Linked DNA regions of Homo sapiens: regions 1, 2 and 4 are each reported to be linked to region 3. Evidence: microRNA targets listed by miRTarBase, many of them from high-throughput screens and not tested one by one. Region 3 holds a microRNA gene; each other region holds the end of a gene's coding sequence. Distances are between the middles of the regions.
What was found. The annotated mature microRNA hsa-miR-6873-5p reads CAGAGGGAAUACAGAGGGCAAU and lies in region 3 at 6,284-6,305, opposite strand. An mRNA with a match to its seed (bases 2 to 7 or 8) in the 3' UTR can be bound and repressed. Matches are read on the target gene's strand: a 7mer-m8 pairs with bases 2 to 8, a 7mer-A1 pairs with bases 2 to 7 and ends in A, and an 8mer does both.

Region 1: the mRNA of TERB2 is a reported target of hsa-miR-6873-5p. Seed matches in the 3' UTR shown: 7mer-m8 at 6,574-6,580.
Region 2: the mRNA of SOD2 is a reported target of hsa-miR-6873-5p. The part of its 3' UTR that is shown has no 7-base or 8-base seed match.
Region 4: miRTarBase lists DARS1 as a target of hsa-miR-6873-5p. Seed matches in the 3' UTR shown: 8mer at 1,969-1,976.

The regions. Positions count from the first base shown.
Region 1 is chr15:44,978,052-44,985,534 of GRCh38, reverse strand. It overlaps TERB2 (telomere repeat binding bouquet formation protein 2), which reads right to left. Exons shown (of 7, transcript NM_152448.3): 7 at 6,306-7,046. The coding sequence ends at 6,907. Among named protein-coding and RNA genes, the nearest start is that of TERB2, 25 kb to the right of the region's middle. RefSeq lists a silencer at 5,257-5,457.
Region 2 is chr6:159,675,270-159,683,248 of GRCh38, forward strand. SOD2 (superoxide dismutase 2) reads right to left here. Exons shown (of 5, transcript NM_000636.4): 5 at 1-7,369. The coding sequence ends at 7,224. Among named protein-coding and RNA genes, the nearest start is that of SOD2, 14 kb to the right of the region's middle.
Region 3 is chr6:33,280,980-33,288,696 of GRCh38, forward strand. It overlaps MIR6873 (microRNA 6873), which reads right to left and starts at 6,310; the gene lies at 6,248-6,310. WDR46 (WD repeat domain 46) reads right to left here. Exons shown (of 15, transcript NM_005452.6): 3 at 7,635-7,715; 4 at 7,379-7,491; 5 at 7,169-7,256; 6 at 6,986-7,047; 7 at 6,635-6,739; 8 at 6,376-6,526; 9 at 6,112-6,247; 10 at 5,816-5,915; 11 at 1-8. RefSeq lists enhancers at 6,253-6,786, 6,787-7,320.
Region 4 is chr2:135,900,817-135,908,300 of GRCh38, reverse strand. DARS1 (aspartyl-tRNA synthetase 1) reads left to right here. Exons shown (of 16, transcript NM_001349.4): 16 at 894-2,420. The coding sequence ends at 985. Among named protein-coding and RNA genes, the nearest start is that of MCM6, 28 kb to the right of the region's middle.

The sequences.
Region 1 (7,483 bases), not on the chromosome of region 3:
AAATTATTCTGTTTTTGGCTGGGCACGGTGGCTCACACCTGTAATCCCAGCACTTTGGGAGGCCGAGGCTGGCAGATCACTTGAGTTCAGCAGTTTGAGAACAGCTTGGCCAACATGGTGAAATACCACCTCTACTAAAAATACAAAAATTAAAACAAAAAATAAAAATTAAATAAATACAAATACAATTCAAAAATTAGTCGGGCTTGGTGGCACATGCCTATAATCCCAGCTGCTCAGGAGGCTGAGGCACAAGAATCACTTGAACCTGAGAGGCACGAGGTTGTAGTGAGCAGAGATGGTGCCACTGGACTGCAGCCTGGGTGATGTAGTGAGACTCTGTCTCAAAAAATAAAAATAAAAATAACTCTTTTTTTGTGCTAAGTCTTCACAATCCAAGGTGTATTTCACACTTAATACATCTCAGTTCAGACTAGCCACATTTCAAGTGCCCACTAGCTACATCTTGCTATATTAGACAGCACAGGTCTACAGCAACTTGACTTGCCTGCTCCTACCCACTCTACCTCGCACTCTCATCAAATGCAGAGACAGTGCCAGGGATTTCATGAGAGGTGGGCCAGAAAAGCTCAGGGGGACTTTTTTTTTTCATATACGGCAACAAAATATGTTGCCCAGGCTGGCCTCAAGCAATCCTCCTGCCTGGGCCACCCAAAATGCTGGGAACCTGTAAAGGTGTGAGCCACAATGACCGCTCACGTTTTTTTTTTTTTTTTAACAAATCTTTGTTGTATATATTTATGGAGTAAAATGTGATGTTTTGATGTATGTATACAATTGGCATGATTAAATCAAGCTGATTAACACATCCATCACTTCACTTACCTATTATTTTTTATAGTGAGACATTTGAAATTTACTCGTAGCTATTTTGAAATATATATTACCATTGACTATAGTCACCCTGATGTGCAGTAGATCTCAAAACCTGTTCCTCCTGTCTATCTGAAATTTTGTACCCTTTAATCAATAATTCCCCATTCTCTCCCTCCCCACCTTCTCCCAAGCCTCTGTTAACCATTGTTCTACTTTCTACTTCTATGAGTTCAACTTTATTAGATTCCACATATAAGTGAGATCATGTGGTATTTATGTTTCTGTGCCTGGCTTATTTCACTTAGCATAATGACCTCCAGACTCATCCATGTTGTTGCTGGAAATGACAGGATTTCCCCCTTTCAGGGCCTGGTTGTTGTTATCATGGTGATGCTATGAGTCCACCAGGAAAAACAAAGTTACCCTTCTTCTGAACCATCCTGATTTTTTCCGATATCCCTCTTTTCTGCCCTGCAGAAACCAAGGACTAGTGCTCTCAGAGAATTTGACCTATATGTTATTCTAGCACCTACTTCACTTTGCCTTACAGTCAGTTGTTTATATTTCCAACTCTCCAACCAGATTATAAATGCCTTAATGGAAGGGTCCCACTCCCTGTTATCTCACTTTACAGGAAAAGAAAAAAAAGCGTGAGTTTAGCACTGTGTCATCAACAAATGTTTGTTGAATGAGTGCGTAAATGAATGAATGAGACAACCCTAGCAGGGTTGATGAATGAATGTGTATTATGGAAGCCTTCGTTTTATCTGGCACCTCCAGGTCCATACAACCTGCTTCCTAATAAACAGTGAAACAGGGCACTGTTGGGTCCCAGTCTGGAAACTGAAGGAAATACTTTTCTTTATCTTCTGTATCCTTACATGTATGAATTCAATTCATCAAATAGTTCCTGAGTAACTCCCATATTCCAGGCACTGTGCTGGGTGCTGTGGGAGCTGCAAAGATTAGTAAGAAATAATCCTTGCCTTCAAGTACCTAACAATGTAGTAGGGGCCTTTGGCAGGTGTACACAAATAATTATAACTTTAGTTTGAGTAACCTAAGTGCTCTAAGTGGACTAGAGTCCTGTGGGGAGAGGGGGCAAGAAGAGGAGGTTGCCAAAGAAGTTTCATTCAGAGATATCCTTTGAGATGATGCCTGAAAGAAGGACAGGATTTGGACAGGTGGGAATGGAGAGAGGGAAAGAAACAGCTTTTAAAAATCTGACAGATGGACTGGGTGTGGTATCTCACGCCTGTAATCCCAGCACTTTGGGAGGCCGAGGCGGGTGGATCATGAGGTCAAGAGACACAAACCATCCTGGCCAGCATGGTGAAACACCATCTCTACTAAAAATACCAAAATTATCCGGGCTTGGTGGTGCATGCCTGTAGTCCCAGCTACTCAGGAGCCTGAGGCAGGAGAATCGCTTGAACCCCAGGAGGCAGAGGTTGCGGTGAGCCGAGATCGCACCACTGCACTTCAGCCTGACCATAGAGCAAGACCCTGTCTCAAAAAAAAAAAAAAAAAAAAATCTGACAAATGAAGAAGAAACACAATACAGAGTAGGTATGGTGAGGAGCCTAAGTAGGACAAGGAAATGAACCCGATTTTAAAGATAAGAGCAAAGTGAAATAAATCACAACACTGTGACAAGGAAACGAACCTCTTTAAATGGGGTGAGGGCCCCACAGTTGGCAGGCACCCTCGTTTAAGTCAGCAACACCATGAAGAAAAGCTCTTGAGATTGGGAATTCCAGGAAGAGATGAGATCTGTGTCACACCTTCATCTGTGTCACACCCTCATGATTGCAGAGGCAAGGAATGGAGTGAAGGGCTCTCTGATCAAGAAAGAGGGAATCTCCTAAAGATTGTGACACAACCGGCCCGGCGCGTTGGCTCGCGCCTGTAATCCCAGCACTTTGGGCGGTCGAGGTGGGTGGATCACGAAGTCAGGAGATCGAGACCATCCTGGCTAACATGGTGAAACCCCGTCTCTACTAAAAATACACACACACACAGACACACACAAATTAGCTGGGCGTGGTGGCGGGCGCTTGTAGTCCCAGCTACTCCGGAGGCTGAGGCAGGAGAAGGCTTGAACCCAGGAGGGGGAGGTTGCAGTGAGCTAAGATCGCGCCACTGCACTCCAACCTGGGCGACAGAGCGAGAACCCATCTCAAAAGAAAAAAGAAAAAAAAAAGATTGTGACACAACCAGGTTGAGCAAAGCCCCCGAGTGACAGAGAAAGGATGAGAAGAGATCAGATACGCTGGGAATAACTTTATGTAACACAGAAGACATGGGCAATACTCTGGCTAGTGAGTACTACATGCTCTGGAGATTAGGGGAACCATACGAATGGAAAATCAAATAGCAGGCTGGGAAATCACCCCAGGGTGGGGAGATGGAAGAAGAATGGAGACAGTGATAGTGAGGACTGGAGTGTAAATTCTAAGTGACAGCCTTTTCCAAGCCACTAAGGTCAGGATCCAAGGCCTGGAGTAGGGTAGGTGGTTCTGTACATATCACAAAAATTGCACCCACAACAGCAGGAAAAAAATTCCAAGACTGATATTGAGGCAGGTGTGCAAAACAAAAGCAGAGACAATCTGATTTAAGGAAAAGATTGATTTACTTTCAATTTTATTTTTAAATTTCAGATCCACCTAATGCCCTGAGCAGTTTTACTTCAGAACAAAGAGCAGGCCCCTTTACCTTTCAGAGCCTGCACACAAGGGAGCCTGAAGAACACACACATTCTGCACTCAGTGATACACCATAGCTGTAAAGGAAACTAATAAAGGCAAGCTGCATTGATCATGTGGCAAATGCTAGGCCCTGTGCAATGCACTTTTACAGGCATTTTCTCATTTAATCCTTCAATATTACTATGGCATTGTTACTATCTTCATTTCTCAGATGCGGAAACAAGTTACATAGCTCACTAAGATGACAAAATCTAGTAATTAGTGGGGCTGTAGGAAGATTTTTAATATTATAAAATCACTATTTTTCCCAGTTAAAGGACTGCTCAGATTTTCTCTTTTTCATGGCAGTTTTAGTAAGATATATTTCCTAGAAATTTAAATAGTTCATGTAAATGTTCAAATTTATTGACATTAATTTGGTCATAATTTTTTTAAATGTCTCTAGAATCTGAGAAGTATTCCTCTCTTCATTTTTGATATTATCTGTGCCTTCTTTCTTTCTCTTGGCCAATCCAGTCAGAAATTTATAAATTTCTTTTAGTCTTCAAAACTCAACTTCTTGATTTGTTGATCATTTCTATTGTAAGTTTGTTTCCTATTTTATTAATTTCTTTTATCTCTACTACAATTCCATATTATTTCCTGCAACCTCCACCTCCCAGGTTCAAGGGATTCTCCTGCCTCAGCCTCCTGAGTAGCTGGGATTACAGGCACGTGCCGCCATGCCCAGCTAATTTTTGTATTTTTAGTAGAGACGGGATTTCACCTTGTTGGCCAGGATGATCTCAATCTCCTGACCTCATGATCTGCCCACCTTGGCCTCCCAAAGTGCTGGGATTACAGGCCTGAGCCACCGTGCCCGGCCAGAGAACATTTTTTATAAGGATATTCAGAGGCAATATCCATCAGCTACATTAAAGCAATTTTTTAAAAAAGGTTACATGAGCAGTAACTAAGATCATATTGCTTTTCACTTCCCATTAAGACAATAAACTTAAAACTAGTTCAACTTTGCTTATTTTATTTTTTCATATGCTTCTAATTCCTGGAAGGCTTATGTTATCACTGATTTTATTGTGCCTGACAATATTTCAAGGATATAGGTTACATTTTGCTTTATTATATACACCTAAAGATATAATCACTTTGGGAAACAAACCTAAAAAACTGTTTCATTATAATTTTTAATTTACACATGCATAATATATCAGAAAAATACTGGATACTCTCTTTCAAGAAATTCCAACATACACAACTTGGTGTACATTTACTTAATCCTCTTAGTCATTAATTTAAGATTTACAGACAGGCTTGGTTTCTATACAAGAAACAATCAATGGTATGTAACTACGATAAAGTATTCAGGAGAAATGTGTTTCAGGGAAAGATAATTAACATTTAAGGTTTTTGTCTTTTCTGTTTTTTGTGTAATTTACAAGATCTGAAGGGCTTAACCACAGATGTGAATATAAATAAGGAAAAGTTATCATATGGAAAAATATAATTCTCAAATGCTGATGCCAAAAGTAGTGTTAAAATTTTGTCTTATGAAATTTGAGTCAGGGGAGAAGGGCCAGGGCCAGGGCCCACATATACCCAAATGGTCCAAGCACTAAAAAAAAGTGTGCATTTTCTTTAGATAATTCTACAGCTGGTATTCACTTGCTTGGAAGAAGTACAGTTCTAAGATGATAGCTTCACAAATAACACTGTCATTTATAAGACACAAAAATGTAATAAACCAATCAGACTCTATATAGCATGGCCATATGAATAAAGATAACAAACTGCCTTCTTGAAATGACTACAACTCAATACTAATGAAACTGTCTAGGGTCAATGGTCTTGTAGTTTGAGGTGTTATCTGAGCTCATTGTTTCACAACCAAGAAAATTAAGGAGGCTGGACACAAGGGTGAGGTTGGAGCAAAACTTTTATAAGCAAAAGAAAGAAAGCTCTCCACAGTGGAGAACGGACCCGAGTGAGCTGCTGTTTTTACAGTTGAATCCAAAAGCTTTTATGTGAAACTCCCCTCAACTCTGTAGCTGTTTGTGTAACTTCCCTTATCTATGAAGCTGTGTATGTAACTCTCCTTATCTTTGTATATCTTGGGTAAGCACAAAGTGCAGCTTCTCTTGTTTGTGTAACTGTGGGTCTGTTTTAGGCAAGCCCCTCACCTCCCTGTGCAAGTTCCCACAGAGCCCACCATGTAAATGCCTGAAAATGGGAGGAATTTTTTTCCTGAGAGCCTGCTAATCACACAAAGAACAAAGGCTCTATGCTGGGCCTTGCCTTCTTATCAGTGCAGGTGCAGTTTGGTTTTTCCCCAGGCTGCTCTATTTATGCCTGTAGCTGTGATTTTTTCAGGCTCTTTCTCAGAAGACTAGCCTTAGTGGTCTGCCTAACTGATTTTTCCTTTTCTTCTCCCTCACTATTTCAGCTTATTAAAAGGCAAGCATGTTGGCTTGTTTCTGGGTCTGCTTTGCGGATCTGCAGTTGTATTGTACCTGGCACAGAAGCTACAGCGTATGCTATTTGGGAGAGTGGGGAAGCACTTGCCTAGAAAATCAAGATGGTTGTGTTCCAATTCTGTTTTGGCCCCCAGTTAGTCCCCCTAAGTAAGACATCTTCTCAAGGTCCTTATTTCCTCATTAAAAACAATAAGTGAACTGGACTCGTTCTTTAAGTTCCATTCTAGAACTGTGATTCTAAGGTGACTTGCAGGTTCATCTAACAAGACATAACACTCATAGTCTGTTTATGTTAAGTCACTTTTGAGATATTTATTATTAGAAACCATCCAACATGAAATATGAATTATTAAAATGTTTTTCTCCATGTTTCAAACCAGAAACAGTAATTCAGAATGCAACTAGCATCCTAATTTTTAAAATCAAAATAAGATGACCAGATTAATAAAACTTAGCATTCACAGTATTCAATCTAGAAAAAATATAATTAATAGAATGTTAAAGCCAAAAGAACATTTGAAAGACAGAAAGAGAGAAGGGGAGGAGAGAAAGAGAGAGGGAAAAGAGAAAGCAAGAAAGAGGAGGAGGAGGAGGATTGAGAGATGGAGAGTTTGAGATTGAGACTTCTTATGAAATATATTTTAACGGCAATTACTCATTAACAACTGTGCATTGAGAATATTTGAACATGTTGTTAAAAGCTAGGGGAAAAATGTCAAAACACAGAACCAAAATGATTCTGTATTTCCTAAAGATATACTTTGAGAAACAGAAAAATTATTTCCCATTTCACTATCCCCCAGTACCAAAAGGGAGCATTTTATGATATGCACATCTGTATAATATTTTATAGAAAATAAATGCCAAGGTATTTACAATTTAATTTACTATTTCCTCTTCAATTTGTTTTTTATAGCAGACATATTAATTTCATTTTGAACATGATATGCCAAATATCCTGAGGTTCCAGGAATGAAGTCATGTAGCTCCCCAAGGAATTTCTTCATGGCATCAATTGATATATAACCTACAAAATAAAATTTAAAAAAAGATATATACTTAAAACCCGCTCATACTATTTGCTTTTCAGTGTCTTTGATTTATTAGAGTTAAGACTTCTAAAGAATGTTTTTAGAAAAGAAGTAAAAAGAAGAAATAATACCAGTGAGAAGATTCTCCATGAAACCTTATAATTATCCGGGAACACCTCCTCTTCCCCTCCCACAACTTTCTGCCACCTTTTAAAATATTAAAAGGTGGATTAAAGCTGCTTTGACTATTGAGATTGTGATGTCTAGGTTGGGGCTAGGACATAAAAGAACTTAGATAAAAATAACTGGGAAGTGTTTCTAGCTTAGACGGTAATCACTTAGAACTATCCATCCAACTAGCTACTAACAGTGCAAACAGTTCATCTTCCCTGTTCCAGCAGGCAACACTTTCCTGCACTGCTAACACTGGAAT
Region 2 (7,979 bases), 130 Mb from region 3:
AAAAGAGCCTGCACTGCCAAAACGATCCTAAGCCAAAAGAACAAAGCTGGAGGCATCACGCTACCTGATTTCAAACTATACTACAAGGCTGCAGTAACCAAAACAGCATGGTACTAGTACCAAAACAGAGATATAGACCAATGGAACAGAACAGAGCCCTCAGAAATAATACCACACATCTACAACTATCTGATCTTTGAGAAACCTGACAAAAACAAGAAATGGGGAAAGGATTCCCTATTTAATAAATGGTGCTGGGAAAACTGGCTAGCCACATGTAGAAAGCTGAAACTGGATCCCTTCCTTACACCTTATACAAAAATTAATTCAAGATGGATTAAAGACTTAAATGTTAGACCTAAAACCATAAAAACCCTAGAAGAAAACCTATGCAGTACCATTCAGGACACAGGCATGGGCAAGGACTTCATGTCTAAAACACCAAAAGCAATGGCAACAGAAGCCAAAATTGACAAATGGGATCTCATTAAACTCAAGAGCTTCTGCACAGCAAAAGAAACTACCATCAGAGTGAACAGGCAACCTACAAAATGGGAGAAAATTTTTGCAATCTACTCATCTGACAAAGGGCTAATATCCAGAATCTACAAGGAACTCAAACAAACTTACAAGAAAAAAACAAACCCCATCAAAAAGTAGGTGAAGGATATGAAGAGACACTTCTCAAAAGAAGACATCCATGCATCCAACAGACACATGAAAAAAATGCTCATCATCATGGGCCATCAGAGAAATGCAAATCAAAACCACAATGAGATACCATCTCACACCAGTTAGAATGTCAATCATTAAAAAGTCAGGAAACAACAGGTGCTGGAGAGGATGTGGAGAAATAGGAACACTTTTACACTGGTGGTGGGACTGTAAACTAGTTCAACCATTGTGGAAGACAGTGTGGCGATTCCTCAGGGATCTAGAACTAGAAATACCATTTGACCCAGCCATCCCATTACTGGGTATATACCCAAAGGATTATAAATCATGCTGCTATAAAGACACATGCACACGTATATTTATTGTGGCACTGTTCACAATAGCAAAGACTTGGAACCAACCCAAATGTCCATCAATGATAGATTGGTTTAAGAAGATGTGGCACATATACACCATGGAATACTATGCAGCCATAAAAAAGGAAGAGTTCATGTCCTTTATAGGGACATGGATGAAGCTGGAAACCATCCTTCTCAGCAAACTATTCCAAGGACAAAAAAACAAACACCGCATGTTCTCACTCATAGATGGGAATTGAACAATGAGAACACTTGGACACAGGAAGGGGAACATCACACACCGGGGCCTGTCGAGGGGTGGGGAGAAGGGGGAGGGATAGCATTAGGAGATATACCTAATGTAAATGACGAGTTAATAGGTGCAGCACACCAACATGGCACATGTATACATGTAACAAACCTGCATGTTGTACACATGTACCCTAGAACTTAAAGTATAATTTAAAAATAAATAAGTAAAAAATAAAATGCCAGAGTTGGCACCTTAAGATCCTCTTTCACAGCAAAGGAGCAGGACTAAAACCAGGCATCTTGACCAATATCCCACAGGTGCTCTGGTAAAATCTCCAAGACCAGGACCCAGGTCTTCCAGTACCTAATTCAATGTTCTTTCCATGCCCACACAAAGGCAAGCAGCAGAAGGAGGAGCAAGCATAAGGCCTTCCCAGTCACCACAGCCATGCTGTCAAACCTCTCTGTGGATATGCTGTGTTAACTTCTGAGCCTTGGGGATACCCATATTTACAATATGATAAATACATTAAGTCACATTGTTTAATATTTGGATATGGGCCCAGACGCACAAATGAACAAGAACCTCATGTCCTGGGACTTCATGGAGCACAAATTATAGTGGGCAGAGAGGCAAACTTGGAATCACCGTGACGCTGGGCATCGAGACTACTGGGTGCAACAATGGGACACACTGAAAGATGACTAGCATGTCATAGGAACTTGAAAGCATTCGTGCTCCTTCCTTTTCACAAACTGAGAAATCTTAAATTTTTTTTAACGTGTCCCAGAAGCATCTTGACAACAGAAGCACTCTCATTACTGTAAAGCCCACAATGAATAGCAGACAGCATGACTTCACCCTAGACAGGTCATGCCAACTTCACATCCCTTTCCAAATAGTATGCCAGTACTATACCAAATAGTATACCACTTTAGGAAGAGTGGTACCAGGTGGTAAGCTCCTATATTCCAATGACCAGAGTAAAATATCACCAGAACTTTATGTAAAATACATCTTGTAAAAGTATGATTACTTTATTTTTCAGAGTTAAGGCAATAATCTGTGGTTGGTTAATGTTCTAAGATGTTACAAGAACTTTAAGAGACAGGGTCTCACACTGTCACCCAGGCTGGAGTGCAGTAGCACAATCATAGCTCACTACAGCTGCAAACTCCTGGGCCTGTGATCCTCCTGCCTTAGCTTCTTAGTAGCTGGGATGATAGGTGTGAGTAACCACAACCAGCTATTATGAGAAATATATAAAATACTATTTGTGATCATGTTATTTATAAGAAATATATATATTGTCTCAATCCTTGCTTGGTCTCTTGGCTCCTAAACCCCTTGAAGTATCTTTGGTTTGCCAATGAAATGATTGGTGGCTGGGAGCCTCTAGGTAGCTTCAGGACGGGGGGCTGCTTACCAGAAAGACCAAGGCAAGATTGGAGGGTTTGGACTCCCAGCCTCAACCCCCAACCTCCAGAAAGGGGAGAGAGGCTGAAGGTTGAGTTAATCGCCAATTGCCAATGGTAATGCTGACATAATGAAGCCTCCGTAAAACCCCAAAGGGTCGGGGTCCAGATGAGCTTCTGGGTAGCTGATGACGTGGAGAGAGCATGAAAGCTCCATACCCCTTCCCACATGCCTTGCCCTGTGCATCTCTTCCATCTGGCTGTTCATCTGTATTCTTTGAAATATCCTTTACAAGCCAGAGGCAATGGCTCACACCTGTAATCTCAGCACTTTGGGAGGCTGAGGTGGGTGGATGACTTGAGGTCAGGAGTTTGAGACCAGCCTGGCCAACAGAGTGAAACCCCATCTCTACTAAAAATACAAAAATTAGCTGGGCATGGTGGTGCACACTTGTAATCCCAGCTACTTGGGAGGCTGAGGCATGAGAATCGCTTGAACTCAGGAGGTGGAGGTTGCAGTGAGTTGAGACTGTGCCACCGCACTCCAGCCTGGGTGACACAGTGAGACTCCATCTCTAAATAAAAAAATAAATAAATGAAATATCCTTTACAATAAATTAGTATTGTAACCAATATGTAGTTTTAATAAAGTAATAAAATTAAAAATGGGTAAACATAAGTAGAGTGTTTCTCTGTGTTCTGGGAGCTGCTCTAGCAAATAAATCAAAACCAAGGAAAGGGTCACGGGAACCCCACTTTATAGCCAGTCAGAAGTATAGGGACTTGCGATTGGTATCTGGAGTGGGGGCAGTCTTGTGGGCTGAGCCCTCCACCTGTGGGATCTGACTCCAATTCCAGGTAGACAGTGTCAGAATTGAATTATAGGACATCCAGCTGGTGTCCACTGGACAACCTGGTGTAAAAGTATTGAGTGGTATGTGACAACAGCAAAAACACTTTGGTTTTGTCGTATATCCCTAATACTATGCTTTTAGGTTATCAGATGATGTTATTACAGATATGACTGGAGATACAGGTCTTGGTCTTAAGAGTAATATTTCAACTACCCATTATTTACTATTCCTTTCCCATGGAAACTCAGTGAAAATGACAGAAGATTATAGGATTTTTAAAGTTTTTGACATGCAAGCATAATGCAGACCTCTTTGATGGTTGACAGATTCTTTTATTAACAGTCAAAAACTTCACACAATTGGAAAATAAATGTTTCTTCAATGAATAATCAAACAAAAATTATCCAGGACCTTATAGGGTTTTCAGTATGTACCAGGCTTGATGCACATCTTAGAAGACAGGACATTATCTTGCTGGGATCATTAGGGTATGACTGAAAGTGAGAAACAGTAATTTGTAAAACATTTACCTAATAATAGCTTTCCCAAACAGTACTTCCCCTGGAATTAAAACAGGAAATACAATTTATGTTTATACGTGGTTTTAGATATGACTCAATATACATAGATTTTAACTTTATGGTTTGGTATTACTTTTTTAAAGGCGCTCAATAGAAATTCAAATCTCACTTTAAGACCATGAATTTCAAGTTGCAATGAAGTGTACAATAAAGTTGTGATTTCTCAACATCAAAGTTTAATTATTACAAAATAGTTCAAGCAACAGATAGAATTTCAAAAACAGTATTTGCTTTGCTTCCTTGTTTTGCTCCAACACTAATCATGCTGAGGTTTTTGAAGCACAGCTATGACTAGGGCAGGCACTGCTGATTCAGTCACAAAAACCCTTCTTGGATGAACAATACTTGTTCTTTTCAGAAGAAAAGCAATTTTACCTTTTCTATTTCTATTATGAAAAACAGAGCTAAACAATTTTTGTATTTTTAGTAGAGACAGGGTTTCACCACGTTGGCCACGCTGGTCTTGAACTCCTTCAAGTGTTCTGCCTGCCTTGGCCTCCCAAAGTGCTGGGATTACAGATGTGAGTCACCCCGCCCAGCCCTAAACAATCTTAAAGTCTCCTTTTCCACCAGATGACTAAAATCTTTAGTTTGTAAATTCCCTTAGTCTCTTAAAATCAATCTATCCAGAAGACAAGAAAGACAAACTTAGTGAAGGAAAGAATGCTTCCTCACTCTCTCACCAGAAAGCCAAAGCAAAAATAGAGCCCCACAGAAATTTCAACATTGAACATTTTTTAAATCTTAAAGCTTAGTAGGAATCAAAAAGCTTTATATAAGTCAGCAGATCTGCAAACCTTGTTAGTTCAATACAAACCATGATCTAGCAGACAACTTATATTCAAAAGCTCATCTTTCAAAAGGTTCCACCTTGCCCGTCTATTTAAACAGTCACGACCTTCCTTAGAGAGGCAAGCAGTAATCTTACATGACACATAAAAGCTGTTTCACTGTGACACATATATAATGAAAAGTAATCAGTCTCCAAAGTTTTTCCAATCCACAAGCATGCATACACACACACACATACACACACCGCTTTGGTACTCTTGTCTCTAATAATTTTTAAAGCCTACTTTTCTAACTGAATTTTAAAAGTACCTTGAATTTAAATTTTTTTTAAACTTCAGTCTTCAATATTGAAACTGCTAAGTTACCCCATTTTTCCATGAAAAAAAAATAGAAAAATAAACTTGGGGAAAAAATTAAAAATAAAAAATAAACTTGGGAAAACATTACTAAATAGGTTTAAGAAAAAAGCCTATATAGGCCAGGTGCAGTGGCTCACACCTGTAATCCCAGCACTTTGGGAGGCTGAGCCAGACGGATCACTTGAGGTCAGGAGTTCGAGACCACCCTGGCCAACATGGTGAAACCCTGTCTCTGCTAAAAATACAAAAAGTAGCCAGGCATGGTAGCATGCACCTGTAATCCCAGCTATTCAGGAGGCTGAGGTGGGACAATCACTTGAACCCGGGAAGTGGAGGTTGCAGTGAGCTCCGGTCGCGCCACTGCACTCCAGCCTGGGCAACAGAGCAAGACTCTGTCTCCAAAAAAAAAGAAAAAAAAAAAACGCCTATATAAAGAAAATATTCCAATAGGAGATAAACCTATGTACACAGAGTTGCTCACCCCAGCATTATCTGTAGTAACAATTAGAAACAAATGAAATATTCAAAAACAGTAAATTAGGCAGATGATGAAACAACATGGCAAATGTATGATGCTAAGCCAAATATACAAAAAGATCCCTGTGAGACGGAGCAGGGACCCCTCTTTGGGGTGTGCCAGGGGGATTCCCACAAGCACAGAAATAAAGGAGAATCTTGAGTTTCCTTCACCGAAAACTCCAGGCACCCAGCTCGCCCCGAGAAGGAAACCAGCAAGCTGATAAGCAAGAAGGTCATAACAGTTTCAAACAATAGCCAGGGAAGTTAGAGTCACCTAGAGACATCCTTAACACGTGCCCCTGAGCTACTTTTCAGAAACCCAGACCCCCACCAAATGGATTCACACAGACGTCAGATAAGGGGGAACACCAGGGACTAAACTCTGACCTCCATTCTTTGCTCTCAGTTTCTTCCTGAGGGGCCTGGCCAGACCTTAATGTTCCTTTCTGCGGACCCCAAGTTTTTAGACAAAGCTTTGCTTCCTTAACCAATCACAAATCAGGGAGTCTTTGAATCCACCATAACCTGTAAGCCCGCCCCCTGCCTACCCCACTTCACCTTTCAGGCCAAACCAATATATAAGCTTCATGTAGTGATTTACAATTTTGGTATACAGCCATACCACCCTGAAGGCACCCGATCTCGACTGATTTACAATTTTGCCTTTAACTTCTGCTTTCCTGAAATTTACCACTGCCTTTAAATACTCTAGCTTGTAGGTCATCATGGAGATTGGGTCTCAAGCATGAGCTGCCCAATTCTCCTTGCTTGGCGCCCTGCAAATAAACATCCTCCTTTCTCCTACTGCAAAAACCACCTTTTTGCAGTTTTGCTGTTGAAGTTTGCCTTTACTGTGCAGGTGAGCAAACCCCAGTTCAGTTCACCTGCTACATTTAAACAGTATACAGCTCTATTTGCAAAAACTATACAGGAACATTTGACCTAACAAAAACCACTGGGTGACATCTACCAGAAGTATCACTGCAGAGGATTACTCGACAAAAAGTGCAATTTTCTATAGAAAGCCGAGTGTTTCCCTTGGGAAAGTGTTAATATTTTATTTTTAAGTAACTGGGGCAAAAGACTAGATTTTCTATAACTGCAATAGAATAGGACTAGAAAGGCATCCCTACAAGTCCCCAAAGTATATGGATGGAATATTTTTGATGGTTTTATAAATGACAATTGTAATTTAGCTCTCTGAAGAAAATGTCCAATCAGATTCAATCACACAAAGCATTTACTATTTTCAATCACTTGCCCAATAACAAAATGTTTAGTAAGAAATTATTCAGAACATTAAGTTGTTTATGAAATAAGTGACTAAGCAACATCAAGAAATGCTACAATAGAGCAGCTTACTGTATTCTGCAGTACTCTATACCACTACAAAAACAGTCATAAAGAGCTTAACATACTCAGCATAACGATCGTGGTTTACTTTTTGCAAGCCATGTATCTTTCAGTTACATTCTCCCAGTTGATTACATTCCAAATAGCTTTTAGATAATCAGGCCTGACATTTTTATACTGAAGGTAGTAAGCGTGCTCCCACACATCAATCCCCAGCAGTGGAATAAGGCCTGTTAGAAAGAAGGGGAAAACAAACCAACCATCAGTTTCAGTCTAAAACATTGCATCTTCTCAATTTCAACTTTTATTATTCTACTCACACAAAATTACCCTTTGTAACAATCTCATTCACTTGTTTTTTTATATAAGTAGGAAATCTAGATAAGAATGAATATTCCTATAAAATATTTTTAATTCACTGTTTACAAAGAAAATGTGACAAATACTAACAATAAAATAGACTTGGGAAAATTAACAACAGTACTTTAATAGCTATTCTTAAAAATACCAACAAATTAATTCAAGAGCCAATTCCCAGCCTTCCTCATGGTGGTCTTAGGAGCAGCAGGAAGGGTGGGTTACATCTGTGGGAGCAGGCAAAAGCCCACTGAGAACCTCCTCCAAAGGGTCTGGGCACTCACAGGGGTTTACGAGGAACCAGCTCTGCTCCCCAAGGCTAATTTTAATCTTTGGGAATACAGAGCAGTTGGAGGACACAGTGTTTTCAGAAATTAAGTGAGGTAAATGAAGAATTTAGTTCTATCTGTAAAACATCCATTTAAAAAAACTTTTGGTCTGGGCGCAGTGGCTCAGGCCTGTAATCCCAGCACTTTGGGAGGC
Region 3 (7,717 bases):
CCATGTACCTGGTGAGAGAAGAGGGATCAATTAATATGTCAGTAAATGGGTTTACCAAGCAAGCTGTGGCCAAGTCCAGGCATCAAGTCTGGCTGGGGAGAAAAAGATTAATAGTAATAACCACTGCCATCACCCTGAACACTCCACAGGCATCCTCTCAGTTAAGCTGCACACAACTCATACTATTTTTATTTCCCTTTAAGAGGTGAGGAAACTGAAGCTCAGGGAAAGGAAAGCTAGGTCAGTGAATGGTCAGGCCTGTCTCTTTAGCATCTGCCTCTAACCTGCTAACACCACACAGCCCTCTCAAGACACGGGCGTCAAAAGGAACGCCCACACGACAGGCTGCACCCAAATGTGATGTCCCCCTGTACACACATGCAGCACACAGCCCAGCAAGGGGAAGGAGCATGTGCAGTGGTCAGAAAGGCTTCATGGGAAAGGTGGGATTTGAGCCATTCTAGATAATTCTCAAAAAATTACAGGAAGTAGATACACAGCAGGTTCAAATGCATTAACACCAGAGTGTTGAGACTGAGAGGGAAGCAGAGGTTTGTTAGGATTGGTGGGAAACATGGTCAGGAAAATCAGGAGCAGACAATTTGTGAGGTTTCTTTAAAGTCAGACTGAGGACCCACAGCTCATGATCCCAACATTGCTCTCTGGCAGTGACAAATCACAAAGTGAAGGCTCCAAGGACTTGAGAAGACCTACTCAGGGAAGTGGTGAAGTAATGCACTGGAGGCCCTTGCCCTGCCCCTCTGTGTGCTTTCCCTGGAAGGAAGGAGGGAAGGTTGGTGACCAAATCCTCTCCAGGAATCATGTACTGCATAAGTTGTTTACTTTCAGAAGTTGGAGTTCCTTTTCTTTTTTTGAGACAGGGTCTCTCTGTTGCCCAAGCTGGAGTGCAGTGGCATGACCCTGGCTCACTGCAGCCTCTGCCTCCCTGGTTCAAGTGATTCTCGTGCCTCAGCCTCCCAAGTAGCTGGGATTACAGGCATGCGCCACCACCGCTAATTTTTAGTAGAGCCAGGGTTTCGCCATGTTGACCACGCTGGTCTTGAACTCCTGGCCTCAAATGACCTGCCCACCTTGGCCTCCCAGAGTGCTGGGATTACAGGTGAGGTTGGAGTTTCTATGTTCAAGTTGTTCCTTAGAGAGGGAAGCTGAAGGGGGACCAGCCAGGTAGGGGATGTATGTTTGCCAAGAGGCCAAGGAGTCTCTTTTTTGCCTTGGCTGTGAACCCAGGAGAAGGGAACTGAAGAGTTCTTATGAGCAGAGACTTGCACAGTGATGGAGCCCAAGAGAGGACCAGCTGGATACTTCCGACAAGATAATCAGCGCCCTGACTTTACCAAAGAGAAAGGCCATCAGTGCAAACCAGGAATTACCGAGCGCTCGTGGAACACAGGGTCACATCCTTTGGTGAACTAACAACTCAAGGATGCATGCTGGCTCTTCTCCCCTCCACACACCCATCTATGGGACCCCTGGGTAAAGACCAGCCCAGTGCCAAATGGGAGTCTACTGTACTACTAGTAAGCAGCAGTTCGGCTTTGAGAAGTCAACGCAATCCAATCATAATACAAGCTACCAGAACACCTCTTAAGAAAGATGGTCAGCCTCATCACTGGAGCCCCCGTGGCCTGACAAGCTCCTGAGGAGGACCAGAGAAAAGCAGGGATGGGCTGAAGATCACAAGGACCAGAGCTGTTTAGCCTCAAGGTGTTGATTAAACTTCAGGCCTCAGCGAACTAGTGATTAAGCCCTAAGCACAGGAGTGGCTGACCCAGGTAGCCCACGGAGGGCAAGCTACAGCTTTGGCCCAGTGGCCCAGAGAGGGCAGAAACCCTTGGGCAGGCCTTCTGACTCTCCTAGAGCCAGGCTGGTATAAATATGGAGTAAAAAGGGCAGAACCAAATCACTCATTCACAAAGATACAATTACAAAGGCCAGACACGGTGGCTCACGCCTATAATCCCAGCACTTTGGGAGGACAGGCGGGTGGATCACAAGGTCAGGAGTTCAAGACCAGCCTGGCCAACATGGTGAAATTCCATCTGTACTACAAATACAAAAATTAGCCGGGTGTGGTGGCACACACCTGTAGTCCCAGCTTCTCAGGAGGCTGAGGCAGGAGAATCGCTTGAACCCAGGAGGTGGAGGTTGCAGTGAGCCGAGACCACACCATTGCACTCCAGCCTGGGTGACAGAGTGAGACTCCGTCTCAAAAAAAAAAGATACAATTATGCAAAAACAGGGAGCGGGTGGTGGGGGGGGTGGTCCCAGCATCCTGGAGACTTTGAATAAGCTGGTGGCCAAGCTGGATGTGGTGGCTCACAGTAATTACTCTGTAATCCCAGTACTTTGGGAGGTTGAGGTAGGAGGACCGCTTGAGCCCAGGAGTTCAAGACAGAGACCAGCCTGGGCTACATGGTGAAACCCCATCTCTACAAAAAATAGAAAAATTATCCAGGTGTGGTGGTGTGTACCTGAGTCAAATTCTGGGTGACAGGAAAATTCTGGGAGATGAGAGCAGGTCAAGAGAAACTTTAGGAGGCGGTGACCTATCCAGTGATGGACACATTGAGTCTGGGATGACAGAGGATAACTGTGTAGAAACTAATGGCATCACCTGAGCTAGGCGTGGTGGCTCATGCCTGTAATCCCAGCACTTTGGGAGGCCGAGGTGGGTGGATCACCTGAGGTCAGGAGTTTGAGACCAGCCAAGCCAACATGGCAAAACCCCATCTCTACTAAAAATACAAAAATTAGCGCATGCAGTGGCATGCACTTGTACTCCCAGCTACTTGGAGGCTGAGGCAGAACAATCACTTGAGCCTAGGAGGCGGAGGTTGTAATGAACCGAGATCGCGCCACTGCACTCCAGCCTGGGTGATAGATCAAGACTCCGTCTCGAAAAATAGTAATAAAATAAATAAATGCATCACCTGGCCAATCATTCTCAAAAACCATAGCCATGGCCGGGTGCAGTGGCTCACGCCTGTAATCCCAACACTTGCACTTTGGGAGGCCGAAGCAGGTGGATCACGATGTCAGGAGTTCAAGATCAGCCTGGCCAAGATGGTGAAACCCCATCTCTACTAAACATTAAAAAATTAACTGGGCGTGGTTCGTGGGCGCCTGTAATCCCAGCTACTCAGGAGGCTGAGGCAGGAGAATCGCTTGAACCCCGGGGGGCAGAGGTTGTGGTGAGCTGAGATTGTGCCACTGCACTCCAGCCTGGGTGACAGATCAAGACTCTGTCTCAAAAAAAAAAAAAAAATAGCCACAAGTTTTTATACCTAAAGGATAACGGGAGCACCACACCAGGGCAGGCTCAACGATTCATCCTTTTGTCTCCAGAACCTCAGCGCAGAGCCCTGCCCACAGCAGGTGCCCAGTGAATACCTGATGACAAAAGGAATCAGAGGAAAATACAAATCAGACAGAAAAGCTGTGGAAAATGCAGATACTCCCTCAGGAACAGCAGAAATCCAAAGCAGACACCACCTCCACCCCTCACATCAGCCAGACCTGGAGAGAACGATCATCTTGAATGACAATGATGAACACAGCGCTCCCTATTTTGCTAAGCGCTGTGCTAAACTATATGCCTTAACTCATCTTAATGTCTACAACAGCTTATATGAGGGCTTTAAACCAAGGCTTGGTAAACTACTGCCCATGGGCCAAACCTGGCCCATCATCTAGTTCTGTATAGCCCACAAGCCAAGAATGGTTTTTACATTTTTAAGTGGTTGAAAAAAAATCAAAAGAATATTTTGAGACTGTGAAAACCGTATGAAATTCAAATTCCAATATCCAACAAATAAAGTTTTATTGGAACGGGGCCACACTATTTACTTAATACTGTGGCTGCTTTTGCTCTACAACACACAGCCGAGTGGTCACGACAGCGACTACAGCATCCTGATTTGCACTGCTGCTTTGTACACTACAAGTCACAGTGACACAGTCGTAAGTGCTTCACAGCATTTCAAGCACCTCACATATCACCTATCATTACCTGTGTGAAAAGATGTTTTCAAAGATGAAATACTTGCAATCTCTACAGATCAGCATGAACATGAATATCTACAGTCAAATTTGACCATCTGGAACACTAACTTTGTACATCAATTAGGCAAAATGTTAACCTCAAAAAGAGAAATTCAGTTCTTCCCATTAGTAGATCTGTATTACACAAATATATTTGATTATTATTATTTTTTTTTTCTGAGACCGGGTCTCACTCTGTTGCCCATGCTAGAGTGCAGTGGCATGATCACAGCTCACTGCAGCCTTAACCTCCTGGGCTGAGGTGGGAGGATCACCTCAGCCTCCTGAGTAGCTGGGACTACAGGCATGCACCACCACACCCGGCTAATTTTTCTATCTTCTGTAGAGACAGAGTTTTGCCATGTCATGGGTGACATGGCTTGTTTCGAACTTCTGGGCTCAAGTGATCTGCCCACCTCAGCCTACCAAACTGTTAAGATTACAGGCATGAGCCACTGTGTCCAGTCTCATATTATGTTTTGTTTGTTTGTTTGTTTTTGAGACGGAGTTTTGCTCTTGTTGCCCAGGTTGGAGTGCAATGGCACAGTCTTGGCTCACTGCAACCCCTGCCTCCCAGGTTCAAGCAATTCTCCTGCCTCAGCCTCCCAAGTTGCCGGAATTACAGGCCCCCGCCACGACACCCGGCTAATTTTGTGAATTTTTAGTAGAGACAGAGTTTCGCCATGTTGGCCAGGCTGGTCTCAAACTCCTGACCTCAGGCGATCCACCCGCCTTGGCCTCCAAAGTGCTGGGATTACAGGCGTGAGCCACCGCACCTGGCCATATTACGTTTAATTTTATAACCTAAAAATGTGTGGGCCAGGCGCAGTGGCTCACGCCTGTAATCCCAACACTTTGGGAGGCCGAGGCGGGCAGATCATCTGAGGTCAGGAGTTCAAGACCAGCCTGGCCAACACAGTAAAACCCCGTCTCTACAAAAAAATACAAAATTAGCTGGGCATGATGGCAGGTGCCTGTAATCCCAGCTACTTGGGAGACTGAGGCAGGAGAATCGCTTGAATCTGGGAGGCGGAGGTTGCAGTGAGCCGAGATCACGCCACTGCACTCCAACCTGGGAGACAGAGCAAGACTACGTCTCTCTCAAAAGATTTAAAAAAAAAAAGGTCAGGCGCAGTGGCTCACGCCTATAATCCCAGCACTTTGGGAGGCTGAGGCGGGCAGATCACTTGAGGTCAGGAATTCGAGACCAGCCTGAACAACATGCTGAAACCCTGTCTCTACTAAAAATACAAAAATTAGCCAGGTGTTGTAGCAGGCGCCTGTAGTCCCAGATACTCGAGAGGCCAAGGCAGGAGAATCACTTGAACCTGAGAGGTGGAGGTTGCAGTGAGCTGAGATTGCGCCATTGCACTCCAGCCTGGGTGTCAGAGCGAGACTCCATCTCAAAAAAAAAAGTTGTGATAATTTGTTTTCTCTTGGTATTTAAATGCCTACATGGTACCCTTTGATTTTACCTCTTATCAGCAAATCATAAAATATTTACTATCTGACTCTTTACAGAAAAAGTTTGTGGACCCTTGAAATGGACACTCATATTTCCATTTTCGGGGTCAGGAAACTGTGGCACACAGAGGTTATGAAATATGCCTATACTTGCAAGGCCCATCCGTGGTAACACTGCGATTTAAACCTGGGCATCCTGGCTTTAGACTCTGTGCTCCTAAAGCACACTGCCTTCCACACCTTTCTGCCCACCTATGACTCCTAACACCTCACCCCACCAGTGACTTACGTGCCTGTAGAATCTACTGCCACAGCCCGGACCCCACCACGATGACAGAGAATCTTTGCCAGTGGCTCCTTCATAGCTGGACTCCATAAAGACACAGTACCTGGAAGAGAAGAAGAACCAAAGTTGCTAATACACACCTAAGCCTGAGGTTACTAAACATGGGAAAGATGGGAACTCAAGACCAAGAGATAACAAAAAAGGGAAATAAAAGGGTAACTTTAAGGGACTCATGAAGTACAAATATAGAAGAAAAGCAAGTCAGGATGGTCAGAGTCAAAACTAAGCCAGGTACTGACCATTGCTGTGTCCGAGATGGATGACGGCATTGTAAGGGTTCTGACTCATAACATCGAGCCGCCCAGCTCGAGCATTCAGAGCTGCCACAATCTTCCCCACTGACACATCCAGGTAGGTTAGAAACCCTGTTTCTGACTGAGAGAGAAAGACAGAGAGAATGACCCAGTCCTGATTGCCCTCTGTATTCCCTCTGCTGGGGTCCTAAAGGAGAGGTGGTCATCCCAAGGGCTTCCAACCAGTTCCTGAGCTCCATGGCCACTCACAGCTGTAGCCAGGAGGAAGTGGAAGGGCAGGAACTCAAGCCGTGTTACTCGGTCACAGCGGCGGATACAGTGGAGCTCAATGCCCTGATTGTCATAGATGTGGAGCCAGCGGTTCTGAGCAACAGCAAGCAGTGCCTCAGAATGGAGAAACCTGGGGGAGAGGAAGAGTGGTTCAATTGGGAAATGAGGTCACAGGCTATCATTCAATCAGGAATGGACTATCTCACCCCAACTGACCGCTGACAGTGAGGCCACTGACCGGATGTCCCGCACCGCCTCCATGACGTTGATCTCGCACATAAGCTTCTTTGTTACCCAATCAAGGGCAGCCACATGACCTCGGCGCCCTCCAAAAGCCAGGTGTCTGTTGGAGGTGAGGGGCAGGCAGGGTGTTAAGGCAGGGGACCACCGACTCAGACAACTTGAGGTCTGCCCCACGCCAGCCCCATCTCTCCAGGCGGGCAGACACATGTTGCTGTAGGTGCTTACCCTCACACCCAAGCAAATCGAAGGACCCTCCCCTCATCAGCAACCCAAACATACACTGGGAATGGCTGAAGTGGTTAAGGAAACACATCTTAGTTCAAGAGTCACTAGAATTCAACCTTACCTTCCAGTTCGAGAGTAGTTTAGTCTGTAGGGTCCAAACTGCCGCAGATTCAAGTCAAAGTGCTGGGAAAGAGAAGAGTGAAAAAAAAGAGTGCCCTGCAGTAACGCCTTCTTCTAGCCCCCATTCCTCTATTGTCCTGCACCACCAATCAATCCCTTGGCTCCTTTACCTCCTCAGGCTCACCTTGGCTGCACTTGCAATGTCCACAGCCTCCACAATGTCAGCCTGGCATATCTTTGCTGTGTCTTCCCCATCCTCCCCTTCCAGAAACCTGAAAGCAAGGGTTAGGATGGCAGTAAAGCTTCCCAATATGAAGCAAGTATACCAACATAAAAACGAGAAAAGACAGTCCCAAAAGGCAGGGAATGGGGGTCCAGATTAGGGCTCACTCACCCAGGTTCTTCAGCAAGCAGCAGCTCAGAACGAGCAGCTTTGATACTTGTTTCCTCTTCCTCAGCTTCAGCCACCTCAAGTCGGCTTCGAGTTTTGGCTTTAGAATGTGGTAGCTGTAACATTGTTGGTGGGGAGGAGTGGCAGAAGAACCACAGGATAAGTGGGGTCACAGGAGAGCTACCTGTCCCAGCCTCCATCCAACTCACCCAGACACTCCCTGCCTCCAGCACTTCCCAACTCTCCGGCTGGACCTCACCTTTCGGGATTTGTCAATGCGACAGAACTTCTGGACCACTTCCACAGGGACGGGGGCGGGGCCTGGGAATGGATCTTGGGTCT
Region 4 (7,484 bases), not on the chromosome of region 3:
TGTATTTTAACGCTGTTTTTTAAATTGGAGGAGGAAAAAGAATAGTGCGTATTCGCCTCCCTACAGGAAAGCATTGTTTCTAGTTTTCAGCTTAACCTTTGCAAAGATACCTTTTCATATACGAAAAGACACACACATTTCTTTAAATATTTTTACACAAATTGTAGCATACTATTATATATAAACCATTTAGTACTTTGCATTTTTTACTTAATGTATCATTTTTTTAATATGAGTCCGGATGGAGAAGAAATACTTTAATGTATCTTGTAACTTGTTTCCTATCAATACCTGAAGAGCTTTTTCATTCTTTTTACATCTCTACATAGAATCAATTGAAAGGAGAGACCATAATCTTGTTAACCACCTTCCAAAAATCAGTTTCTTCTTTACAGTCAAAACACTTAGTATAATAATGTACTCCAGAGCTTTTTATCGTAGGGTCCACCATGTTAAATGTCTATAAAATTAACAGTAAATTTTCTCATACTTCTATTATTGCTTAAGCAAGTTTATGGCTCTCATCCTCATTGCCTGGACTGTATAATCAGAGTGTGGTATCATTTGAAACGTTCAAGCTTATAAAGTCTTTTGTTTTGTTTTTCTTATTGTTACATCATAGATTTTGTTCATTCGTATAGATTTTTGTGGTTCACATTTTAGACTCCATACCACTCAAGGATATATTACTTAGTCCTTTTCATTTATAGCAGCATCTTTATTTCTGAATCAATACTCAAAACAGTTTTAAATAAACCCAAAATAATAAGAGTCATTTTCTTTCCTAACAAGGAAAAGTATTTAGTTTAACGATTACATTTATGTTTGTAGTTCTAAGTAAGACCCTGAGAGATTTTCAAAAAGGAATTAATGATTATTTTTGTCTTCCCCAGGATTGGAACGAGTTACTATGCTGTTTCTGGGATTGCATAATGTTCGTCAGACCTCCATGTTCCCTCGTGATCCCAAACGACTCACTCCTTAAATTCACACTTTGCCACTTAACTCCAGTGTGGATGACAGAGCGAGACCCTGCCTCAAAAAAAAAAAAAAAAAAAGAAAGCCACACTTATTCTTTTCAGTAACCTGCTAGTGCACAGGCTGTACTTTAGGTACTTAAAATATGCACTAGAATAAATTTGCAAGGCCCTAAAATATCACTGTTATTTTTGGAGTAATTCAGTATAGGTTCGTTTAAAAGAGATTTTTATAACTTCAGACATGCATCAGTAGGAAATAACTTGAGAAATTCATATGGTTATGTTACAAATTCATATTCTGTTACTACAGTAAACGTTAAGAGTTTTAAACAGTTAAGATTGTACAATTTTTCTTCTTTTCTATATTACAAGGGCCCCAGTGTTAATGTCTTAGATTTTCAGTATTTGAACTTATTTTTTTAAATTCTGTCATTGAGATAAGAATAATTCAGGTAGCATCTGAAATTTTAATGAATGTATAATTGGCATATCATGGAAAATTAACCAGAAAGTATCAGTTCTTAAAAGTTATGCCTAGAAATTATGTAAAGCTAAACTACTGGTTAGAAAGTATTCAGTGTAATATTGTATTAATTTGTTAAATTCTAAACTTGAATTTCAATAAAATTTTAAAGCTAATTGTAGTTTTTGTGTAACTTTGTGGCCAACTGATTTTGTAAGTGGTGCTAGGCATTCATAATTTGGTAAAAGAAAAAATACACAACTAGTTTATATAAATAAAGACTAATATGTTGTCAACATGTATTCATTTCAGGATATTAGTTTAGATGGGCGTAGGGATAGAGCTCTTAAAGTTGACAGCTTGGGTCGGTTGACAGAGTTCATTTCACATGGGTTAAAATATATTGCAGAATTTTGTTTGATTTTTAACTGGAATGGTACTGATACTTAGTGAATGTCAGTAAAATCCAGTCCCATCTTATCCGTCAAAAAGAAATTTTTGTGTAAGAATTAGTTAGAAACACTTTCCCTCTAGATTATTACAAATGTTGATGCTAATGTTAATTTTACATGACCACAAATATTGGGGAGGAACAAAACATAACATATTTTTGTACAGGAAGAAAAAATTACATGCAGAAAAATATGAGGGTCAAAAAGTTAGGAAGTTACCCCTGGACCACGAACATCTGCCCATTATGTTTGAAAGTTAAAGGGGGTGTTTACCATCTATATTGTACAGTCTTTGAAAGTTTAGATTCAGTTCTTATTTTTTTCTTTCATATCCTACCAGAATACCTTAAATATAGAAGGCACCCCAAAAGTATTTCATAATTTAATCCACAGCAAGAATAAAATATCCATCTTCTATAGTGTGTAATTGCTAGACCCTAAAATAGTACAATAATATTGGCCCTAGAGCTGTTCTTAATTTCATGTAATTATAGCTTGTTTCAAAATAAAGTTTGTAAAGTCTTAGAATGATGTAATCTTTTTTATTGTGAAGGTTTTCAAACATGCTGACCAAATTAGAACATGATAAAATACACTTGTACCTATTATCCAGTCTTATCAAATCTTTATCATATTTGCTTCAAATATTTTTTTTTATTTTTATGTATTTGTTTTGAGACCAGGTTATGAGACTGGCTAATTTTTGTATTTTGGTAGAGGTAAGATTTCTCCATGTTGCCCAGTCTGGTCTTGAACTTCTGGCCTCAAGCGATCCACCTGCCTTCACCTCCTAAAGTGCTGGGATTACAGGTGTGAGCCGCTGCACCTGACCTCTTATTTATTTATTTTTTTGAGACAAGTCTTGCTCTGTGGCCTAGGCTGGAGTGCAGTGGCATGATCTCAGCTCACTGCAACCTCCACCTCCCCGGTTCAAGCGATTCTCCTCAGCCTCCCAAGTAGGTGGGATTACAGGCTCCCACCACCATGCCCAGCCAATTTTTGTATTTTTAGTAGAGACGGGATTTCTCCATGTTGGCCAGGCTGATCTCAAACTCCTGACCTCAGGGGTGATCCGCCTGCCTGGGCATCCCAAAGTGCTGGGATTACAGGTGTGAGCCACTGTGCCTGGCCCTTACTTTATTTTTTAAAGAGAAAAGAAATCAAAAAAAAAAGAAATTGTGGGCAGTTAAGGTACCCTCTTATAGGAAACTATTATATGAATTCAAACTTTTATTCTTTTGTTTTTATATTTTCACTAAATATTTATGTTTCTATAAATGTCTAATATTGTTTTGCAGATTTATTTGATATGTAAATCCTGAGATTTTCATTGGAACTACCTTAAATTTATAGAATAATTTGAAAAGACTTGGAATTTCCCTCTCTTTAGTCTTCCAGTGGATGAACATGGTATATCTCTTCATTTATTGATTTTTTTAATTGTAGTAAAACATTTTTATTTTATACTTTAAAAGTGTTTTGCTTTTTGTGTGATGTTATTATTTATCCTATCAGCATTTTATTCTCAAGATTATCAAAGAATTTAGTACTGTTAATGCTGGAAGCAAATATCTTTCCATTTTAGCTCTATATCCTTGTGCTTTGCAGATCTGAAGATATTTCAGCTGAGTCAGAACAGCCTTGCCAAGGATCTGCTAATCATGTGATGAAGGGAGAAACTGGTGAGGTAGCTTAGTGTTTTTTTGTGGGCAGGATTTAATGAGTACTCTTGAAAACAAAATATTCAGTGTAACAAAATTTGAAAGATCTCACCCTGTTGCCCAGGCTGGAGTGCAGGGGCAGGATCTCAACTCACTGTATCCTCCACCTCCTGGGCTCAAGCAGTCTACCTCAGCCTCCTAAGGTAGCTGGGACTGCAGGCGCACACCACCACACCCAGCTAACTTTTGTATGTTTAGTAAAGACATGTAGTAGTTGTCATGTTGCCCAGGCTGGTCTTGAACTCCTGGGCTCAAGCAATCCACCTGCCTTGGCCCCCTAGAGTGCTGGGATTACAGGCATGAGCCACCACGCCCAGCTTGTGTATTTTTTCGGCTTCAGCCCGGAAATAAATGTTTCCCATGAATTCAATCATAATATAGACAGTACTTTGTTCACTGTAGTTTTACTTAACATTAGCATATTAAAACTGCTTTTAATTTTCCAGTTTATGTTAGAACACCTTACAGTGTTTTGTTTTGTTTTTTCTATTGGGAATGAAACCATGCCCCAAGGAGTTAAAAAAAAAAAAAAAGTTGAGTAACAAATTCTTGGGTGTGGAGGATAAACAGATAAGAAAAAACAACTTACTAACACTCCCCTCCCTTATAACAAAACTGTCTAAAATCAGTTAAAAGCAATATTGCTAACTAGAGTTTACACAGCAAGCTTGCTAATGTTACAGCCTAAAGTTTCACCACATATTTTATACTAACTACCTCCAAATTGGCACATGGGACCCATAAAGAGGTAACTACACATGCCGAAGAACTTTCCAGACCTCTTCCACCAATCACCTACTAATCCCAGAATCCGCCCCCTGAAGGATAAAATCACTGCCTTAACACCAGCACAGAGAGAGCAATTTGAGCTGCACTCCTGTCTCCTTGTAAGTCACTTGAAATAGAAAGCTTTTCTCAAAAACCCAGTGTCATTTTATTGGCTTAGAGCATTGGGCAGTGAGCCCCTTCTGCTTGGTAGCAGGATTGGGATCTTTTCCGTGACATTTTTAAATTGTTACAAGGGTAAAGAACACTATCAGTTATCAATTTTTTTTTCTTAGATGGCTAATTTTTTTGTATTTTTAGTAGAGACAGGGTTTCACCGTGTTAGCCAGGATGGTCTCGATCTCCTGACCTCGTGATCCGCCCGCCTCGGCCTCCCAAAGTGCTGGGATTACAGACGTGAGCCACCGCGCCTGGCCTCAGTTATCAATTTTTATATGTTGCCATTTTATGCAGCAGTATTCTTGATCTCTTACTCTTTCTAATAGTTTGTATTGAATATCTTGTATTTTCAAGGTAGATGGAGAGGTGTGAGAAGGGATAGCATAACAGTAAAAAGTATGGATTCTGTTAGCCACACTGCCTGGGTTCAGATTCTGGTTTTGCTCTTACATTAATGTATAACCTTGGATAACTTGCTTATCCTCAGCTTTCCTCATTTGCATAATCCTACATCATGAGACTATTATGGGAATTAAAAAGTGTAGAACACAGAATAGTGTGGGGCAAAATAAGAGTTTAGTCTTCCTGTCTCATTCTTATATTTGCCGATTGCATTAGATTAGTTCTTCAGTAGAGTGTTGAATAAAAGCAGTGATGGAGGCATGCTTGTATTGTTTTTATTTAAATACTAAAGTCTTGAGATTAAGTGTGATAATTTCTGTAGGTGGTTTTTGTTTTCGTTGTGTGTTTTTTTTTTTGTTTTGTTTTGTTTTTGAGACAGGGCCTTGCTCTCTTACCCAGGCTAGAGTGCAGTGGTGCAATCTCAGCTCACTGCAGTCTCGACCACCCAGGCTCAAGCAATCCTCCCACCTCAGCCTCCCAAGTAACTGGGACTACACGTGCATGTCACCACACCCAGCTAATTTTTTGTATTTTTTTGTAGAGACAAAAAAATGTATGTTGCTCAGTCTGGTCTCGAATTCCTGGACTCAAGAGATCCACCTGCCTCAGCCTCCCAAAATGCTGGGATATACAGGCATGAATCACTTCGCCTGGCCTTTAGATTTTTAATAAATGTCTTTTATCAGGTTAATGGAGATTTTATTAGTTCATTTTCTATTATGAATAAATTTTGAATTTGTCAAATACTTTATCAGTATTTGCTGTGATTTTTTCATGTTGTTTGGATACAGTGGGCTATAATAACAGAAATCCCTGATACTGTTTTTCTGGAATAAATACTGTTTGATCACTACATATTATTTTGTGTATGCAGCTGGGCATGGGCAACATAGCAAGACCTCATCTGTACAAAAAATAAAATTAGCCAGTATGGCGGCACATGCTTATAGTCCTAACTACTTGGGAGGCTGAGGCAGGAGGATGACTAGAGCTCAGGCATTCAAGGTACTGTGAGCTATGATTGTATCACCATACCCTAGCCTGGGTGACACAGTGAAAACCTGTCTCTAAAAATAAACATTTTTAAAATAAATTTTGTATATATACTGAATTCAATTTGATAATTTTATTTAAATTTTTTTCATTTTGTTCAGGTATACACAACAAAATTAATTTTAAGTGTACAGTTTTATGAATTTTGGTAATTGTATAGAGTCAATTAACCTTCACCATACTCAAGCTACAGAACATTTCCACTGCCCCAGAAAGTTTCATAGTGTATCTTTATAGTCAGTCCCCATTGCTAGCAACTCAAGGTCTGTTTTTGCCTTTTCTAGAATTTCATATAAACAGAACAATACAGTATGCAGTCTTTTGTATTTAACTTCTTCCATTAAGCATAATTTTTTGAGATCCATGTTGTTGCATATATTAATAATGTGTTTCTTTTTATTGAGTAGTATTCCGTAGAATAGATATACCATAATTTGTTTATCCATTCACCAGTTAATGGATATCTAGGTAGCTTCCAGTTTTTAATCTATAATGAATAATGCTGCTGTGAGCAATCATTTGCAAGTCTTTATATAGACATGTTTCTATTTCTTTTGGATAGATACCTAAGAGTATATTTTCTGGATTATGTAAGTGTACTGTCTTGGTCTGTACTACTATAACAAAATACCATAGATTGGGTAATTTTAAAAAACAGAAATTTATTTCTCATAGTTCTGGAGGCTGAGAAGTCCAAGATCAGGGTGCCAGCAGTGACTGGTGAGGGACCCAGTCCCTTCTTCGAAGATGGTGCCTTGTTGCTGCATCCTCTGGAGGGAATAAATGCTGTATCCTCACATGGCAGAAGGAACAGAAGGTCAAGAAAGGGTCTAAACTACTCTCCAGCCCCTTAATAAGGTGGATAATCCATTCGTGAGGGCACAGCCTCATGACTTAATCACTTCCCAAAAGGCCCCACCTCAATACCACCACAATGGGGATTAAGTTTCAACATGAATTTTGTTTTTTCCAACTTTTATTTTAGGTTCAGGGGGTACATATGCCAGTTTGCTACACGGGTAAATTGCATGTTGAGGAGGTTTTGGAGTAAAGATTATTTCACCACCCAGGTAATAAACATAGGTAGTTTTTTGTTTTGTTTTGTTTTTGTCTCTTTTTCTGGAGTAGGTGTTTGTAAGAAAATTACAGGTAGTTTTTCAATCCTCACCCTCCTCCCCCCCTTGACCCTCAAGTAGGCCCCGGTGTCTATTCCTCCTTCTTATGTTCATGTGTACTAAATGTTTAGCACCCACTTGTAAGTAAGAACATGCAGTATTTGGTTTTCTGTTCCTGCATTAATTTGCTTAGGATAATGGCCTCCAGCTCCATCATGTTGCTGCAAAGGACATTATCTCACTCTTTTCTATGGTTACATAGTATTCCGTGCTATAAGTGTACCACATTTTCTTTATCCAGTCCACTGTTGATGGCCATTTAGGTTGATTCCATGTCTTTACTATTGTGAATA